2 linked regions of the Homo sapiens genome follow. The protein of the gene in region 1 purifies or fractionates together with the protein of each later gene. This does not show direct contact. Each region holds a gene or a part of one and is shown on either strand. Other genes may lie near its edges.

The links.
Region 2: the proteins of SLC22A3 (region 1) and ACTG2 purify together in Homo sapiens (affinity purification with mass spectrometry; one large-scale study listed by BioGRID and IntAct). This does not show direct contact.

What each region holds. Positions count from the first base shown.
Region 1 is NC_000006.12:160,438,630-160,442,451, reverse strand, and holds part of SLC22A3 (solute carrier family 22 member 3), read right to left. Parts: intron 1-3,822.
Region 2 is NC_000002.12:73,895,917-73,899,738, forward strand, and holds part of ACTG2 (actin, gamma-enteric smooth muscle isoform 1 precursor), read left to right. Parts: intron 1-3,822. UniProt on the Homo sapiens protein: Actins are highly conserved proteins that are involved in various types of cell motility and are ubiquitously expressed in all eukaryotic cells.

The sequences.
Region 1 (3,822 bases):
GAGCCAAAGCACACTGGCTTTTTGTCCAGGTGGTAGTTTCCAGTCATGCCTTTGAGCCACCACGTTCCCACAGCTGGTGCCCAGCTGTCCTTTCTGTGCATACCTTGCGGTGGTGACACAAGGAATAGCCGTTCCCAGCACACCTGGGGAGTTCCTCACGTGAGCTGACCTTGGTTTCTAGAGTGGAGCAAGCTTTGAGGACCAGGATCTTTGGAAGGGGACATCTATTCTGTGTGTTACCACTAAGGCAAATGTCACTCATTGTCTTCTTCATCCCCCATTGTACTACTTCCTTCAATAAACCATCCAGAAGGAGCCACATTCATCAATGCTAATTGGTTCGTCCATTTTAAAATGAACTGTTTTAGGACTGCTCTGGTTGTATGAAGAAATTTTCCTTTCCTCCCTACTAACTAGTGGGAAATGCCAAACATTCTATATTAAATATTTTCTTTCTTTTATGTTTTAAGGGCAGAGGAGTTAACCATTTTTACTCTAAAAAGTCACTGCTCTAGCTTTCCTAGAAGTTGTGCAATTGATGTCATCCTTTCCTAGGGGATTTGGTATTGAGGACATATGTCTGCATGAACAAGACCATATCTGCTCTCCAAAGCAAAACGAAGCATGTCCAGTGTTCATGTGCCTTTCATTTTCCCTTTATATCCAACACATATGTTCATTTAGCACTAAATAGTCCTCCTGTTTCCTAGGGGAATTATTGAACCTTCCTGAATATATAATTTTTTAGTAGAAATGAATGAGGAGGATGAAAGAAGAGAATCAAGCCCAGTAGACTTCTGTGTGTTCTCTCTAGAGAATAGCCAAGTCAAAAAAAAAAAAAAAAGCTAAAATTCATTAAATAAAACAATTGCCCAGGAGCACAGGTGTAAGGAAAAGATGGCTCAAGAATCCAAACCATTTCTGGGAGTCTGAAGTTTACATATTTTGACTGCAAACTGGCCAAGGACATCCTGGTGCACTTGATGTTTTTCCCACATGAGAACCCTTGTAGCTGTCACGTTAACGGTTATATCAGGCAGTGAGGAGGCCAGGGTTGTGCTGATGTGCTGGGCCACTGTCTGCTCTGGAGCAGAAGGTTTGTCAACATGTGTTATTTAGGCTTTGCTTCTTTATGAAGACCAAGAAAAGGGGGGAGTGGAGACTAGGTAATGCATTCCACTCCATCTTTCAATGAGCATGTGGTACTGGAAGGGGAAAGTGGGAGCAGAGACTCAGATTCCCTGGGTCCCAGCCCGATGGGACCATCTCCTGCCACTCCCGGGCTGCAGTGAAGGCTGCCTGCTACCTAGGAAACAGCTTCACTATCCAGGTTGGGTTCTTCCATTGTATGTTTCTTTTCACTAAATCAAGATTGCTCTAAAATTGAGTCCCACCGACAAATTCAAGGGCAATTTGGGTTTATAACCGAGGCAAGGTGTTTCATGGAAAAATCCAAACAAAAGCCAGAGACCAAATTAAAACACACACACACACTCCACCATGATAAACATATGTGGTTAACTCAGATAAATAGCCAGTCAATTCAGTAAAACATTCAGAAAATGCCAAGTTGCCCCATTTGTGGAGATGTGGTCTGTCCGGAACATTGACCTTAATCTGAAAGACTCCCAACTCTTTTCCAAGCAGTAGAGTCCAGTATCAAACTATACTGGAACAGAGATTTTGTTGAAATGTGTAACCAAAGAAAAGTTTCTAAGGCATTGCATGGTTCATTAACTAAAGAGTGAAAAGAAAACTGTAGGAAGTATGAATAAATATATACACACAAAGAAATTCTTGATTCCAGTAATAAGCTAAATTCATTTTGAGGTGGCCATAGACATCTTTTGGTAGCAATGACAAAAACCACAGGGCAATTTAAAAATGAGTACTGAAACTAAAATTGTCTTCCATGGAATTACATGAGAACAAAGAAAATGTTTTCTTCTGAATGTGGATTTGGTCAAGCTACTAGAGATGATTGGGAATAATACCTCAATTCCTGAAGAAAGGATGCAGGACTTAAACAAAACTTTATATGTCCTCTGAATGGATCATCTACTCTGAGTTCTGAAATAAAGTTTAGTGAGAAATTCTAGTAGAAATGTCTAAATTAAGATACATGAACTCACTTTTCAATTAAAGAAAAATAAAAGTGGAAGACAAGTTTTCCAGTTCAAGAAGACGACTTATCCAAACTGCTAGGTTTGTGGTCATCCTAAATAAACTCAAATTAAAGATGGCAGACAGGTATGGATAAAGAAAGGTCTTTATTTTCCAGACATTAATGAGTGTTAAGAAATTTGGACTAGAAGCAGTGAGTCTGAGATGAGAATACAACCAGAACTACTATTTCTTCTTCCAGAATTCCATTCTTTAGACCATGAAAAGTTGGGTCGAGTGGAGGGAAAGCTGATTAAAGTGTTTGCTGTGAGACTATTTTAGAGCTGGTTTCTCCAAAAGCTCATCTGTATTCTCCCCAGGGGCTGGCGACCTACTACTGACGTCAGGAATGGCTGAGCAGAAAAGCCTTTCTCGTGCTAATTAACCAGTGGCTGGAATCAAGTCCAATGGGTCTTTAAATTGGAAGGACTCAAGGGAGGATCGTCTGTTAATATTTGGAACTCAGTTTAGGGATTTGAAATGTATTCTTGCCAGTCAGTCATGACTGACATATGACTATAAAAGCAGCCAAGTCTGCAGAAGGTAAAAATAAAATGTGTCTAGAATAAGAGCAATTCATTTTCAGTCTTGCTGAGAACAATTCTAAAGCTTCAATCAGGAAATTATATCTATAAAATAAAACTGGTTAGACAAGGGAGAACAGTCTGTTCTTGGTGTTATATTTTCCAATATATGAAAGAATTCTCTACAAAATAGTTATATGACTATCCGGCTAGTTACTTCTGTCTTGATTTGGACACACAGCCTTGAATGCTTTCTGGGGTCATTCTGAATGCAACAAACATTAAAGTCATCCCAATCAATCTAGGACCAGAGAAAATCTTATAGAGTAAAGTATATATATATATCATGAAATGAGGGGACACACCGAAGCATGCATCTTTCTCGCTGCATTTCTAATTTCATATACAATGAATATTTCATTCATTCCTAGTCCACATACGATGAGAACAGAAGACTTCATCTCAGGGAGCTACAGTTGTATGTTATATCCAAAGTACCAAAGTAAAATAGAACAGTAACGTCTCCAATGTTTGCGATTTTTCACTCTTCTTAAATTATACAATTTTGAGGGCAGGAATTATGTCTATTTTGTTCACCTCTCCATTCCCCTCCTAGTTCAGTGGCTGGCAATTAGTCGATACTAAATAGATACGTATTAAGAGATAGCTATTGTACAGATCCTCCAACTCTTATAATATGTTAATTCCATGTAGTGGGTTGAACAGTGTCTCCCAAAATTCATGTCTACCTGGAACCTCAAGGCTACTACATTTGGAAATAAGGTCTTTGCAGATGTAATTAGTCAAGGTGACACTGACACAAGCAGAGAAGAGAATGTCCTGTGAATATGGAGGCAGAGATAGGAGTGACACCAAGGAGCTGCAAGGATTGCCAGAGAGAGGCATGAAGAGACCCTTCCCCAGAACCTCTGGACATAAGCACCCTTGGATGCCTTGATTCTAGACTCCCAGCCTCCACACCCCTGAGAGCATAAATGTCTGTTGTTTCAAGCCGGTGAGTTTGTGGTACTTATTACAGCAGCCCTGGGAAGCGAATGCACTCAAGGAAAACAAGAGAAATGTAAATAGGTGGTTGCTGTTCATCATCAAACATTCCAACATGTCAGGGGACTTG
Region 2 (3,822 bases), on another chromosome or scaffold:
TAATATGTAAGTGAATGGATGTGGCTGTGTTTCAGTAAGACTTTATTAGACTCTGAGATTTGAATGTCATATAATTTCCATGGGTCATGAAATATTTTTCTTCTTTTGCTTTTTTCTCAACCGTTTGAAAATGTAGGGCCGGGTGCAGTGCTTGCACCTGTAATCCCAACACTTTGGGATGCCAAGGCAGTAGGACAACTGGAGGCCAGGAGTTTGAGACCAGCCTGGGCAACATAGCAAGACCCTGTTTCAACAAAAAAAATTTTTTTTTGAAATTAGCAGAATGTAGTGGCCATGCCAGCCACATGCCTGCCATCCCAGCTCCTAGGATGAGGAGAAAGGATCCTTGAGCTCAGGAGTTCAAGCCTGCAGTGAGCTTGATGGTGCCACTGGACTCAATGCCTAGGTGACAGAGTGAGGCCCAGTATCTCAAAAAAAAAAAAAAAAAAGAAAAACCATTCTGAGATATAGGCCATACAGAAACAGGCCGGAATTTGCCTTACCCTGATTTACAATGTCTACGGCACCTTCATTTCCGTTCTGTCATCTTGTGAGATAGATACTATCATTTCCATGTTCTAGCGGAGGAAACTAAGGCCCAGGGAAGGAAGGGACTGGGCTGTGGGAAAGGGGAACCAGGAGGGAGAAGAGGGTAAAGGAAGGAGGAGCAGTGGGAGGATTTCTAGAGCCAAACTTGTCTCCTTTGAGGTGCTGGGGAGGGTGGATTTTAACAGCTCTGCCCTCACATTGGGTTTGAGGTGGCCAGGGAGACGGGTGAGTGAGCAAATGACTTGCATTCATTATGTCTTTGGTTTCTGGCCACCTTTGGGGCTAGGGGAATAAAAGCTTCATTCCTGAGTCAGTGAGAGCTTCAATGAAGCCCAGATGTCATTCGTGCTGAAAGAACCAGAACAACTCTCTGCTCCCTGCCAAGCATGAAGCGGTTGTGACCCCAGGAAACCACAGTGACTTTGACTCTGGTTCAGCTGACATGCTCGAGTCTAGCCACAAATTACCAGAAAGCAGCTGAGGAAAGTTTAGAATTTCTCCTGGCAGAGATGGTCCACGAGTCTGGCTCCAGGGTGAACCCCTTCTTCCCAGAGCAGCACGGGGCCCTTTGGAGGCTCGACTCCGCCAGCCCTCCCACTGCCTTCCCCCTGCCTTCCCCACCCTCACTTCGGTTGAGTTTTGCCTTCAAAATAGCAGACTCCAAGCCACCTGAAGGGCTGCAGAACAGCGTTGTTGACAGCTTCAAGTCGCCTTGTGGCTTCTCTGAGCTGCTGCTGTGCTTTGGAAACAAAATTCCAGGCTCTCCCTCTTTCTGTGTGTGGGAAACACCGGAGAGAGTTTGGGGAGGGAGACAAAAGGGCCCATTGAAAACCCAGACAGGCTTGAACTGTAAGTCACACCGGAGAGAGGGTTGCTGAGGGGACCCTAGAGGGAGGCAGTCCCGGAGCACAGCTTTGCTTCTTTGGCTACTTCCTTGCTTTGGAGGTTGCTTTCTTCTCAAGGTGGACCACCTGCTAGAACAGGGCAGCACTGCTGTTCACTGGCCAGCTTGGAGAGAAGACTGCCCATGTGATTCTAAGTCAGGCCCTTGTGACTGAACCACCATGAGGCTGGACTGTGGGGACTCGGGTATCCCAGAGGCAGAGCACACCAGGTCTGGGAGGGGGGCCACTCAGACGGCAACATTGTCATTCAATATCTATTGAACACCTACTGTCTTAATCCATGTTTGTTGCTACCACAGAATATGTGAGACTGGGTTATTTATAAACAATGGAAATGTATTTCTCAAAGTTCTGGAGGCTGGGACATCCAAGATCAAGGCACCAGCAGATTCAGTGTCTGTCTGGTGAGAGCCCAGAGTCTGCTTCCAAGGTGGCACCTTGTTGCTGCACCGTTACATGGCAGAAGAGCAAGAGAGAGTGAGAAGGGACCAAATTCGCCCTTTTATAAAAAAACCCATTCTTGAGAAGGACATTAGTCCATTCAAGAGGGCAGAACCCTGCTGTTAAAATTGGTAACTAAATTTCAACATGAGTTTTGAGGGGGACAAACATTCAAACCATAGCACCGCCTGTGTGTTAAACACCCACTTAGGTGCTGGGGCTGTAAAAAGTAAATCTAGGCGTGGCCCTGGCACAGGAGGGACTCCATTTCATAGAGAGAAAAGAACACAGACCCTTTTGTTTTAGGGTGCTTGCTGCCAACCGCTCTGGAGAGACAGGCTGAAGCAAAAACACCAAACATGGAGAAGTTATGACAGTTCCCCAAAGTAGTGACGAAGGCACATCTCAGGCTTGGGAAGTGTCCTCGGTGGGTGCCAGGCCTGCCTTTCCCAGCCTCTTCTCGGTGAAGAGATCTCTGGCTAAGTTCTTTACCTTCTCTGAGATTTGGAACATACTGCTGTTTCACCTACCAAAGCAACTTGCACCTTTTCTATTGTATTAAATATTTCAGTTTCTCCATTGTATGGAGGCTTCCAGCAATTAGTTTACAAGCCAACTTATTTACTATTCAGTAACTTTTTTTGATATTGAGATTGTTCCTAATTTTGATCATTTTAAACAAAGGTGTGAAAACAGGCCAAATCTTTTCATTCACTCATGACCATTTCACAAAGATAGATTCGTAGAATAAGTATTTTCAAATTCCCTTTCAGAAAAGTAGTACAATTTAACACTCACAAGCAGTGAATGTGAAGCCAATTCTCCATACCTTTGCCAGCAAGGGTGGCCCCAAGAACCACACACAGTACCCCAGCTAAAGGCAAAGGTAGCTTTTATCCTGGCCATAGCACACTGCTGATGGTCAACAAGACACCAAGTCCTGCTCACAGATGCTAAACAGAGCTTTCTTTTTTCTTTTCTTTTTTTTTTCTTTTTTTTTTTTTTTTTTGAGATGGAGTCTTGCTCTGTTGCCCAGGCTGGAGTGCAGTGGCTCGATCTTGGCTCACTGCAAGCTCCGCCTCCCGGGTTCACGCCATTCTCCTGCCTCAGCCTCCCGAGTAGCTGGGACTACAGGCGCCCGCCACCATGCCTGGGTAATTTTCTTTTTTTTTGTATTTTTAGTAGAGACGGGGTTTCACCATGTTAGCCAGGATGGTCTTGATCTCCTGACGTCGTGATCCGCCCACCTTGGCCTCCCAAAGTGCTGGGATTACAGGCGTGAGCCACCGCGCCCGGCCACAAGAACTTTCACAGTTTGGTGATTGAAACCCACATATAGGAATTCATATTCATTTCATTAAATTTAACCTTGGCTGTGTGTGGTGGGTCACTTGTAATCTCAGCACTTTGGGAGGCTGAGGCAGGAGAATCACTTGAACCCAGGAGTTCAGACCAGCCTGGGCAACAGAGGGAGACTCTGTTTCTACAGAAAAAAATTTTTATATCAGCCAGCCATAGGGCATGCCTGTGATCCCAGCTACTTGGGATGCTGAGGTGGGAGGATCGCTTGGGCCTGGGAGGTCGAGTCTGCAGTGAACTGTGTTCTTGCCACTGTACTGCAGCTTGGGTGACAGAGCAAGACCCCATCTCAAAAAATATATATATATATATCTTCTGATTCAGCTCATTTTCTGTGCCTTTTGAGATCTTCTTGGACTTTTATTCTTTCACCCAGTGTATTTAATATTACTCTCTCCCAGCTGTTTTATCTGAAAACTTTATCAACCTGTGCTTTATATTTTCATTCAATTCATTTATAAAAATGTCACATGAGAAAGGGTCAAGAGTAGAGCCCTGGGACATATTGCTGCCTCCTCATTGACATTGACTGAGGCAGCCGCAAATATACCAAATTGTATTATTGCTT